Regions from separate parts of the Homo sapiens genome. Here region 1 is linked to region 2. Evidence: fine-mapped expression QTL. A gene starts in region 2. The other region holds a variant in brackets. All regions are shown on one strand. Distances are from middle to middle. Region 1 overlaps ZFR2 (zinc finger RNA binding protein 2). Region 2 holds the start of ZFR2 (zinc finger RNA binding protein 2).

What was found. PIP is the estimated chance that this variant, and not a neighbour inherited with it, causes the effect.
Region 1: its variant is fine-mapped to the expression of ZFR2 in whole blood (TOPMed, PIP above 0.99). The same link has a PIP of 0.9 or more in blood mononuclear cells.

Annotation. Positions count from the first base shown.
Region 1 is chr19:3,819,885-3,824,884 of GRCh38, forward strand. It overlaps ZFR2 (zinc finger RNA binding protein 2), which reads right to left. Exons shown (of 19, transcript NM_015174.2): 8 at 3,362-3,519; 9 at 2,197-2,316; 10 at 1,456-1,595; 11 at 298-406. Among named protein-coding and RNA genes, the nearest start is that of MATK, 36 kb to the left of the region's middle. RefSeq lists an enhancer at 1,916-2,075. The variant C/G (reference allele first, on the strand shown) is at 2,126.
Region 2 is chr19:3,866,617-3,872,089 of GRCh38, forward strand. It overlaps ZFR2 (zinc finger RNA binding protein 2), which reads right to left and starts at 2,422. Exons shown (of 19, transcript NM_015174.2): 1 at 2,349-2,422. The coding sequence starts at 2,401. It also overlaps the pseudogene FTLP5. RefSeq lists an enhancer at 4,509-5,008.

The DNA of each region.
Region 1 (5,000 bases), 47 kb before region 2:
TCGGGCTGCGGGGACAGGTGCTTCTGAGAAGAGACAGTAGTAGCCACAGAGGCATGAGGCTCCCCAAGGGAGGCGACCACCCGGGGCTCCAGGAAGCAGAAGGGATCTCTGTGGCCAGTGGCAGGGGCTGGGGTGCTGGGGCTCCCATCTGTGGAGTGAGGAGGCCTGGGCCATGGAGCCCCATCCCCTGAGTACTATGTGGGAGTTGGGGGGAGGCCGGGTCCTCCCGAGGAGGTGTCCGCTGCTCCGGGGAGTGTGAGGTCGCCCGCGTTTGCACACAGAGGAAACTGTACCTACCTGGAGTGGGGCGCTGGCGGGTGACTCCGGCCTGCCCATGAGCAGAGGCTGGGCCCAGTCGGGCGGCGCGTGGGGCGGCACGTCCTGGGGTGGCTCCTCCTCCAGCCGCCTGCAGGACCGAGACGTGACAGAGCATGGTCAGGCCAGCAGTGGCCCTAAGCTGGGGGCAAGTCAGAAACACTGGGGCCTTATGCTCCCAGCAAGGAAGGAAGGGCCAAAGCTCTTGCTGGGGCTCCACTGCACTGCATGGGTGCCTGCTGTATGCACAGAAGACTGAGGCTGGGAAGGCTGGTGTGGGGGGCAGCCAAAGACACCCCTTAGGCAAATGAGGCCCAGCCCGGGCAGCCATGGCCTTCAGGAGGTCCTGGTTCCCTTCCCAATGCAGACCTGCTGCTGCTGGACACACCAGAGTCAGATGTTACATCAGAAAATGCTCTAGGATGGACACAGGGGACACTGGGAATGAGGGGACGCTAGGGGATCAGGGGGACACAGGAGACTCCAGGGGTCAAGGGGACTCAGGGGATACCAAGGGTAAGGGGACACAGGGTCATCAGGGGTCAGGAGACACAGGAACACCAGGGGACAGAGGGACACCAGGGGTCAGGGGGACTCCAGGGGTCAGGGGTCACATGGCACACTAGAGGTCGGGGGACACAGGGACACCGGGGGTCGGGGGACACAGGGACACTAGAGGTCGGGGGACACAGGGACACTAGAGGTCGGGGGACACAGGGACACCGGGGGTCGGGGGACACAGGGACACTAGAGGTCGGTGGACACAGGGACACTAGAGGTCGGGGGACACAGGGACACTAGAGGTCGGGGACACAGGGACACCGGGGGTCGGGGGACACAGGTCACAAGGCACCTCTGCAGCCGTGTGGTCCAGCGAGTTGGCCGGCAGTGTCCCTGCGTCTACGGAGGCCCTGGAGCCCACGTGTCAGGTCCGCACGCCACTGTGCCCTTGCCCGTCTGCTCTGGAACCCTCTCACGCTCCCACACCAGGACGTGCCCACTGCCCGGGCACCCGTCTCCCCCCACTGCTCGAGAGCTCACACGGAGGAGCTCCGTAATCTGCAGCAGTGGGCGTCTAGGTTCCACGCTGGACCTGCCCTCCCTCACCAGGCCCCCTTGCCAAGACCCGCAGCCGGGCACCTCCTCTCCGCGTGCCAGCGCCGCAGCTGCTCCAGCCGCTCCTCCGCCAGGTGCCGCTGCTTCCTCATGCGCTCCTCCAGGACCTTCCGAGCCCGGCTGCTGGGCTCCGTGGCAATGGGAAGGTCCGGGTTCACTTTCTTCTGGAAAGGACAGGCAAGGCTCTGAGAGTAGGGACCTTGCTTTAGACAGGGATGCCAGGAGGATCTTGGGGTGCAGGGAGAGGCCCAGAGACTAGAACTGTTGGGCTGAAAAATCTCCCAAAGCCTTTTTTTTTTTTTTTTTTTTTTTTTCGAGACAGAGTCTTGCTCTTGTCTCCCAGGCTGGAGTGCAATGGTGTGACCTCGGCTCACTGCAACCTCCGCCTCCCGGGTTCAAGCGATTCTCCTGCCTCAGCCTCCCGAGTAGCTGGGATTACAGGTGCGCACCACCACACCTGGCTAATTTTTGTATTTTTAGTAAAGATTTCACTATGTTGGCCAGGCTGGTCTCGAACTCCTGACCTCAAATGATCCACCCAACTTGGCCTCCCAAAGTGCTGGGATGATAGACGTGAGACACCGCGCCCGGCCGAAGATACACTTTTGAGACGAGGACCAAGACGTTGAAAACCCAGAAAATCACCCCTCCCTCTTAAGTTCGTCGGATCACACGCGCGGAAGAGGCCCGACCA[C/G]AGGCCTCCCAGCGCCCGCCGGGCCCTAGCACAGCCCGGACGGGTGTCGGAGCTCCCCCTGCTGGACGCACCCGGTACTGCAGCCGGTGCCGCCGCCCCCTCACGTGCAGGTCCTTCGCGTTAAGGTCGTTGAAACTGCACTCGCACAGCTTGCAGTGGAAGCGAAGCACTCGCCCTTCGTCGCTGAACACCTGAGACACAGAACAGCCGCACGCGCACCAGGCACGAGGCGGGGTGGGATGTGAGATGCTACCGCTGCCAGGTCGCGGCGGAGCCTTCCTCCTTGCTGCTCATTTTATTTATGTATGTCTTTTTAGAGACAGCGTCTTGCTGTGTCACCCAAGCTGGAGTGGAGTACAGTGGCTCGGTCTTGGCTCACTGCAGCCTCAAACTCCTGGGCTCAAGCGATCCTCCCACCTCAGCCTCCCGAGTAGCTGGGACCACAGGCACACGCCACCATGGGAGGCTGGAGGATTGCTTGAGCCCAAGAGTTCAAGACCAGCCTGGTCAACATAGCGAGACCCCCATCTCTACAAAAAAAATAAAAAATACAAAAATTAGCTGGGAGTGGTGGCTCATGCCTGTAGTCCCAGCTACTCAGGAGACTGAGGTGGGAGGATTGATTGAGCCCAGAAGTTTGAGGTTGCAGTGAGCCATGATGGCACCACTGTGCTCCAGCCTCGGTGACACAGCAAGACCCTTTCTCTTAAAAGAATCCCAGGCCTACAGGCAAGGCAGAGGAAACCCAGCCCTGCCTCTTTGGCACGCACAAGGCCAACCGGGGTCTGAACTGCCGCTGGCCTGGGAGCTGGCAGACCTGGCCCAGGAGCTCGGCTCCACTGCTCACCAGCCTGACCTTGGCAGGTCCCAGGGTCCCGCAGGCCCAGGAAAGGGGCTAGACAGAAGGGCTTCCAACCTCCCGGGGAGCTTTCTACTGCCCAGATCCCTTCCACCTTCCAGACAGACGGCTCCGCAGGGTCCCCTGTTGGGAATGCCTCGGCCTGTCTCTGGCCCTCACGGGGCCATATTCATTTCCTGCTGATACCAAAATCCGGCACCCAAAGTGTCAAGCGGGTCTGCACGGGGTTTTGGTCCATGGAGGTCTGGCCTGTGCAGCTCAGGAACGGGGATGGGTCTGTAAATCTCGCTGGGAGAAGCCGGGTGAGGTCTCGAAGCCTGATCCATGGGAAGGTCCTTCCCTGACCGGGGCACCAGGACTTGACAGCCTCGACTTACCTCCTCCACATATTCCGGGCCCACCGGCTGCGCATCAGAGCAGCCCGCGGGAGCTTCCTTTGAGCCTCCTTGGGTAGGTGCTCCGGGACCCTCTAATTTAGGTTGGGCTGGTTTCCCCCACTGGGGTCTGCAGCCTGCTGCCTGTGGCTCAGGAGGCCCTGAGGGGAAAAACCATGTCACTTATACCCTGTTCCAGGAGAAAGCACTGCAGCTGCAGACCCGCCAGGCGGCATGGGGTGGAGAGCCACCCAGACTGCAGGCTGTGCCATCCCCCTCCCTCCTGTGATGTCAGGGGGAATGGCCCCGGACAGCAACCTCGCTCTCCCTTTCATGCCTGCGTGTGACCCAGCCAAGAAACCGAGGCCAATTTCAATCCATCCGGGGAGAAGCCCTGGTTTTAGGCCCTCGCTTGAGGAACCCACCGACAGCACAAAATCCACAGTTAATAGACCATGAAGTATCAGGCGGACCAAGGCTCGCACTTAACCTACCCCCGTTAGGCGAAATGATGGAGCCTCGGGGGGAGACAAATATCTTTGTTATAAGAATGACTTGATGGTTTGATCTTCAAAATCATGTTGCTATTCAAGAATCAACGCTGCTGAGGCTAAAAATAGAATGTGGCTCCCTCGACCCCTGCCCACGCACAGCACGGTGGTCCAGGGCAGAGACTCTTAGACAGACCCGGGTTCCAATTCCACCTCCACCGTTTACGGCTTTTCCATCTACACATTGGGACTGGTGACAACATTGACTCAAATGAGTTGTGGGCTGGGCACAGTGGCTCATGCCTGTAAACCCAGTGCTGCGGGAGGCCGAGTTGGGAGGATCGCTTAAGCCTAGGAGTTTCCGACCAGCCCCAGCAACATAGCAGAACCCCACCTCTACAAAAAAAAATACAAAAAGTAGTGGGATGTGGTGGTGCACACCTGTAGTCCCAGTTACTCAGGAGGCTGAGCTGGGAGGATCGCTTGAGCCCAGGAGGTGGAGGCTGCAGTGAGCTATGATTGCACCTCTGCACTCCAGCCCGGGTGACACAGTGAGACTCTGTCTCAAAAACAAAACAAAACAAACCACGAAAAAAGAGTTGTCGTGGAGGTAAAGCGAAGCAATGCACACAAAGCAGTGAGCAGACGCCTGGCATGTAATCCTAGTTAACGCGGGTCAGCTCTGACAGCTGGGGCTTTGCACGCAGGGAAGGTAGGGTCACAGGCAGAGGGGTGTGAGGATTCCACCTTCATTTCCTGGTACCCATATAACTCTGATTCTGAGCCCAATTTGTTCACCGTGAGCACCAGGGCATGCAGGGGAGCACAGTGGAGGTGGCAGCCCAGGGAACCCTGTAGGTGCAGGGTGAGGGCTTCCAGAGAACCCCAGCACCCGGCACCAGGCCAGATTCTACCAGAAGAGGCCGGGCGCAGTGGCTTACGCCTGTGATCCCAGCACTTTGGAATGCCGAGGCTGGTGGATCACTTGAGGTCAGGAGTTCGAGACCAGCCTGGCCAACATGGTGAAACCCTGTCTCTACGAAAAATACAAAAATTAGCCGGGCGTGGTGGTGCATGCCTATAGTCCCAGCTACTCAGGAGGCTGAGGCAGGAGAATCGCTTGAACCCAGGAGGCAGAGGTTGCAGTGAGC
Region 2 (5,473 bases):
AATAGCAAGCATAATATTCAAGTGATTTTCCACGTCTGATGGAAGAATACAATGGAGAAAGAAAGAAGAGAAAGAGAAAAGAAGGAAGAGCTAGCAGGCAGAGGGGTGGAGTGTGTCCAGAAGTTTGTACTAGCCTGGATCGCTAGCCAAGTCCAGCCGCTTTAACTGAGCCCTGGCAATCAAAACACCACTGAGGATGAAGGAAGCAAAAGAAAAGATCAAATAAAAATTAAATGCTCCATTCTGGGAAATCAGCAGGTCATAGATTCTTTCCCTAATAGGAAATCCATTACTAGTCAAATACTCCACCAGAGAAACCACTCCGAGTGCAGGAAACAGATGCACTCCTCATTCCCACAGCCCTGGTTTCCAAGCCCTGGGTGGTTTCTCTTTGTGATTCCATTAGAAAGGGCACAGCAATATCACAGCACTGGTGGAAGGGTCGGCACTGCCGCTCCACCGCGGGAAGCTGAAACACCAGCCTGGATCTCTCTTCCATGTGCTGAAATGCAGTAGGAACACCGCGGGGGGCAAAGACCCCCCTGAGCTCAGCAGAGGCCCCTCTATGAGGTGCCCAAGGGGTGGTTTGTATCTGTGGGGGCTCAGCAGGGACTGTGAGAAACAAGGTTATAGCAAGCTACCAGCTGGAAACTAACACAAGGGTGACACGCGGAAATGATCAACTGTTGGGGGGGGAATCTGGTCCCCTCAGAGATGCCAGCCCTGGCTCCCGGACTGGGACTCCAGTCTTGGGGGCAGATGGACGGGCTGAAGATAGCAGAGATGCTCCGAGGAGCAGGCCTGGGAGAACAGTGTAGAGTGTGTGTTTGTACACTTGGGGCACAAACTTACCCCGTGTGTGTCCCTACCCTCTGAGCCCTTCTGCCCCTGGCCAGTTCCCAGTGTGTCCCCATCCCCTGCCATCTCTCCTCCAGGATCCTTTCTCTCCCTCCCCTCCCAAACGACCACATATTTAAGACCTAGAAAAGGATCTTAAATATCACAACACTCAGGGCCCTTTCTCCCTCCTCACTGTCCCAGCAGGGTCCCAGTTCCCTGGAAACCCAGGTGCCCACCCTCTTATTTGACCTCAGGACCTCCTCCCACATAATACTGGCTTCCCGCCAAGTCTCTGTCCCCCTTCCCCAGTCAGGCCTCAGTTCCCCACCAACCTCGGTTTCCGCCCCTCCCTGGGGTAACCTCCCAGGTCTCTGTCTTCTCTCCTCCACCCCACATCAGGGGTCAGGTTCCCACCCCTACTCCACACCCCACCCCAGGTCTCTGCCCCTGCCTGCTAGGTACCCTCCCAGGTCTCTGCCTTCTCTCCTACCCCCACCATCAGGGGTCAGTGCCCTCCACACTCGAATGTTGCTGCCCCCTGCCCAGTCGGGAAACTTCCCAGGTCTCTGCCTTCTCCTCCTCCAGCAATCGGGGATTAACGCCCCTCTGCCCTTCCCCTCCTCCTGCCCAGCCAGACACCCTCCCAGGTCTGAATTCTCTCCCCCTACCAGCAATCGGGGTCAGCTCCGCTCTAGCTCTCCCCCTGTCCAGCCAGACACCCTCCCAGGTTTCTGTCTTCTCTCTTACCCCCATCAGGGGCCAATTCCTCACCCCTCGACTGTGGCTTCCTCCTGCCCAGCCAGGAACCCTCGCTGATCTCTGTTTTCTCCTCCCCTACAAGTAATCGGGGGTCAGCTACCCTCTGTCCATCCCCCTGCCCGGCCAGGCACCCTCCCAGGTCTGTGTCTTCTCCTCCCCCCGCAATCGGGGGTCAATGCCCCTCTGCCCTTCCCCTCCTCCTGCCCAGCCAGACACCCTCCTAGGTCTGTGTCTTCTCTTCCCCTACCAGCAATCAGGGGTCAGCTCCCCTCTGCCCATCCCCACCCACTCCCCGGCCAGGCACCTCCCAGGTCTCCTCCCTGCATTGGGTCAGTTCCGTCCCCTCCCCTCCTCGGTCAGACCACCCACCCCCCGCCCGGGTCTGTCCCCTCTCGCTGCCCTCCTCGTGGCGCCCCCATCAGGGGCTGACCCCCCCGACCCCGCACAGGCCCAGGCCCAAACCCAGGCCCCCTCCCACTTCAGGAGCCCCCTCCCGCTCCCGCCGACAGACACCGTTGGCTGCAGAGACGTCTCAGCCGGAGCCCCGGAGCCCGCATCCCGCCCGGTGCCTAACCTGAGGCCGCCCCGCCTGCTTCTCCCGGCGCCGCGGCTTCCCTCAGGCCGGGGTTCCAGGTTGGGGCTGGGACTGGGGCCGGGCCGGGCGCACGCGGCGGGAGAAGGGGTAGGCGGGGTCCCGGCCAGGCTGCAGGGGCCGGGACTGGCGGGGGCTGGCGCGGCGGGGCAGTTACCTGTACTGCGGGCCGCCGCCCTGCGCGAAGTCGAAATACTGACTCGTCGCCATCTTGGCGTCTTCCCCGAGCCTGGCGGACCCGCGACGTCACCCGCCCCGCCCCCGAGCCGCGTGCCGCTCGCGCCTGGCCACGCGCCCCAAGCTCCGCCCCCTGCGCGAAGCCCTCACCTTCTCGCTTCCTTCTCTTAGGCTAGGGAGACACCGCCCCGCGACCACACCTGCCCCGAGGCCCCGCCTCCTACGCAGAGCCCCGCCCTCCTCTTAACCACTCAAATGTGGAGGTCTCTGCTCAAGCCCCGCCCATGCTAGAAGCCCTGCCTCTTTCTCGGAGCCCCACATTCCCTTTAACCACTCAGATGTGGTGGTATCTGATCAAGTCCCGCCCATGCTACAAGCCCCGCCTCTTACTCAGAGCCCTGCCTTCCCTTTACCCACTCAGATGTGATCTCTGCTCAACCCCCACCCATGCCACAAGCCCCGCCTTTTTTTGGAACCGTACCTTCCCTTTAACCATTCAGGTGTGGAGGTCTCTGCTCAAGCCCCACCCATGCCACAAGCCCCGCCTCTTTCTCGGAGCCCCGCCTTCCCTTTACCTGCTCAGATATGGTCTCTGCACAAGCCCTACCTCTGTCTCCGAGCCCCACCTTCTCTTTAACCACTCAGATGTGGAGGTCTCTGCTCAAGCCCCACCACCACCACAGCCAGCTAATTTTTAAATTTTTTGTAGAGACAGTGTCTTGCTATGTTGCCCAGGCTGATGTTGAACTCCTGGCCTCAAATAATCTTGCCTTGGCCTCCAAAAGTGCTGGGATTACAGACGTGAGCCACTGCATCTAGCCTCAGAATGACTCTTCAGAAGGCCCCCATGGTCTCTGCCTCCTGTGTTCACAACGTGATATAAATAAATGATAGGCCGGGCACAGTGGCTCACGTCTGTAATCCCAACATTTTGAGAGGCGGAGGCAGGAGGATCTTGAGCCCTAGGACTTTGAGACTAGCCTGGGCAACATAGCAAGACCCTGTTTCTACAATTTTTTTTTAATTAGCTGGTCATGGTGGTACATGCCTGTGGTCCCAGCTACTCAGGAGGCTAAGGTGGGAGGATCACTTGAGCCTGGGCTGTCAAGGCTGCAGTGATCTGTGACTGTACCACTGCACTCCAGAGTGAGACCCTGTCTCAAAAAAGAGAAAAGAAAGAAAGGGCTGGGCGTGGTGGCTCACGCCTGTAATCCCAGCACTTTGGGAAGGCGAGGTGGGCAGCTCACCCAAGGTCAGGAGTTCAAGAGCAGCCTAGCCAACATGGCAAAACCCTGTCTCTACTAAAAATACAAAAAAAAAAATTAGCCAGGCGTGGTGGGGCACACCTGTAATCCCAGCTACTCGGGAGGCTGAGGCAGGAGAATTACCTAACCCAGGAGGTGGAGGATGCAGCGAGCCGAGATCACACCACTGTACTCCAGCCTGGGCAACAGAGCAATACACCGTCTCAAAAAAATAAAAAAATAAAAAATAAAAAAATAAATAAATAAATAATAAAAGAGGAGAGGGAGAGGAGCAGGGAGGGAGGGAAGGGAAGGAAAGAAGAGAGAGAGAGAGAGAGAGAGAAAGAATTGAATGAATAAACAAATAAATGGAGGCAAACAGACAAATCTCTTATGCAGAAGAATTCCTAATTTGTGTAGCTACACTGCGCTTAAGGAGATAGAGAGTAACTCTACACCTCTTGAGTGTGGGTTGTGCATAGTGACTTCCTTCCCAAGACTGCAGCCTGGAAGGAGGGGGAGGGAGAGTCACTTGACAGTATTGAAACCTGACAAGCAGCAGCGTGTTTGGCGGTCCCGCGGATCCGTCTCTTGCTTCCACAGTGTTTGGATGGAACAGATCCGGGAACTCACTTCCAGCCTCCGACCACCCGCTGATTTCCTCTCTTCTTGCAACCTCCAGGAGCATCGGCTCAGCCATCTCCTGCTTCTCGGACCAACCAACGCCGTTTTTTTGGTTAGCTCCTTCTTGCCGACCAACCATGAGCTCCCAGATTCGTCAGAATTATTCCACCGCGGTGGAGGCAGCCGTCAACCGCCTGGTCAGTTTGCACCTGCGGGCCTCCTACACCTCCTCCCTCTGCGGGTTTTTTTTTTTTTTTTTTTGCTTGTTTTTTTTTTGAGACGGAGTCTGGCTCTGTCGCCCAGGCTGGAGTGCAGTGGTGCGATCTCTGCTCACTGCAAGCTCCGCCTCCTAGGTTCACGCCATTCTCCCGCCTCAGCCTCCCGAGTAGCTGGGACTACAGGCGCCCACCACCACGCCTGGCTAATTTTTTTGTATTTTTAGTAGAGACGGGGTTTCACCGTGTTAGCCAGGATGGTCTCGATCTCCCGACCTCATGATCCGCCTGCCTCGGCCTCCCAAAGTGCTGGGATTACAGGCGTGAGCCATCGTCTGCGCTTCTATTTCGATCACCAAGATGTGGCTCCGGAATGCGGGGCTTACTTCTTCCATGAATTGGCCAAGGAGAAGCGCAAGGGTGTTGAGCGTCTCCTGAAGATGCAAAACCAGCGTGGTGGCCCTGCTGTCTTCCAGGACATCCTGAAGCCAGGTCAAGATGAGTGGGGTAAAACCCTGGAAGCCATGGAAGCCGCCATGGCCCCGGGGAAAAATCTCAACCAGAGTCTTTTGGATCTTCATGCACTGGGTTCCGCCCCTACAGACCCCCATCTCTGTGACTTCCTGGAGAGTCACTTCCGAGATGAGGAAGTGGGCTGCACGCGGTGGCTCACACCTGTAATCCCTGCACTTTGGGAGACCGAGGCAGGCAGATCACCTGAGGTCAGGAGTTTGAGACCAGCCTGGCCAACATGGCGAAACTCCAGTTCTTCTAAAAATACAAAAATTAGCCGGGCGTGGTGAGCTACTCAAGAGGCTGAGGCATGAGAATCGCTTGAACCCAAGAGGCAGGGGATGCAGTGAGCCGAGATCACGCTACTGCACTCCAGCCTGGGGAATAGAGTGAGGCTCTCCAAAAAAAAAAGAAGAAGAAGATGGGTGACCACCTGACCAACCTCCACAGGCTGGCCGGCCCGGAAGCTGGGGGGCCCAGAGGCTGGGCTGCATGAGTATCTCTTAGAA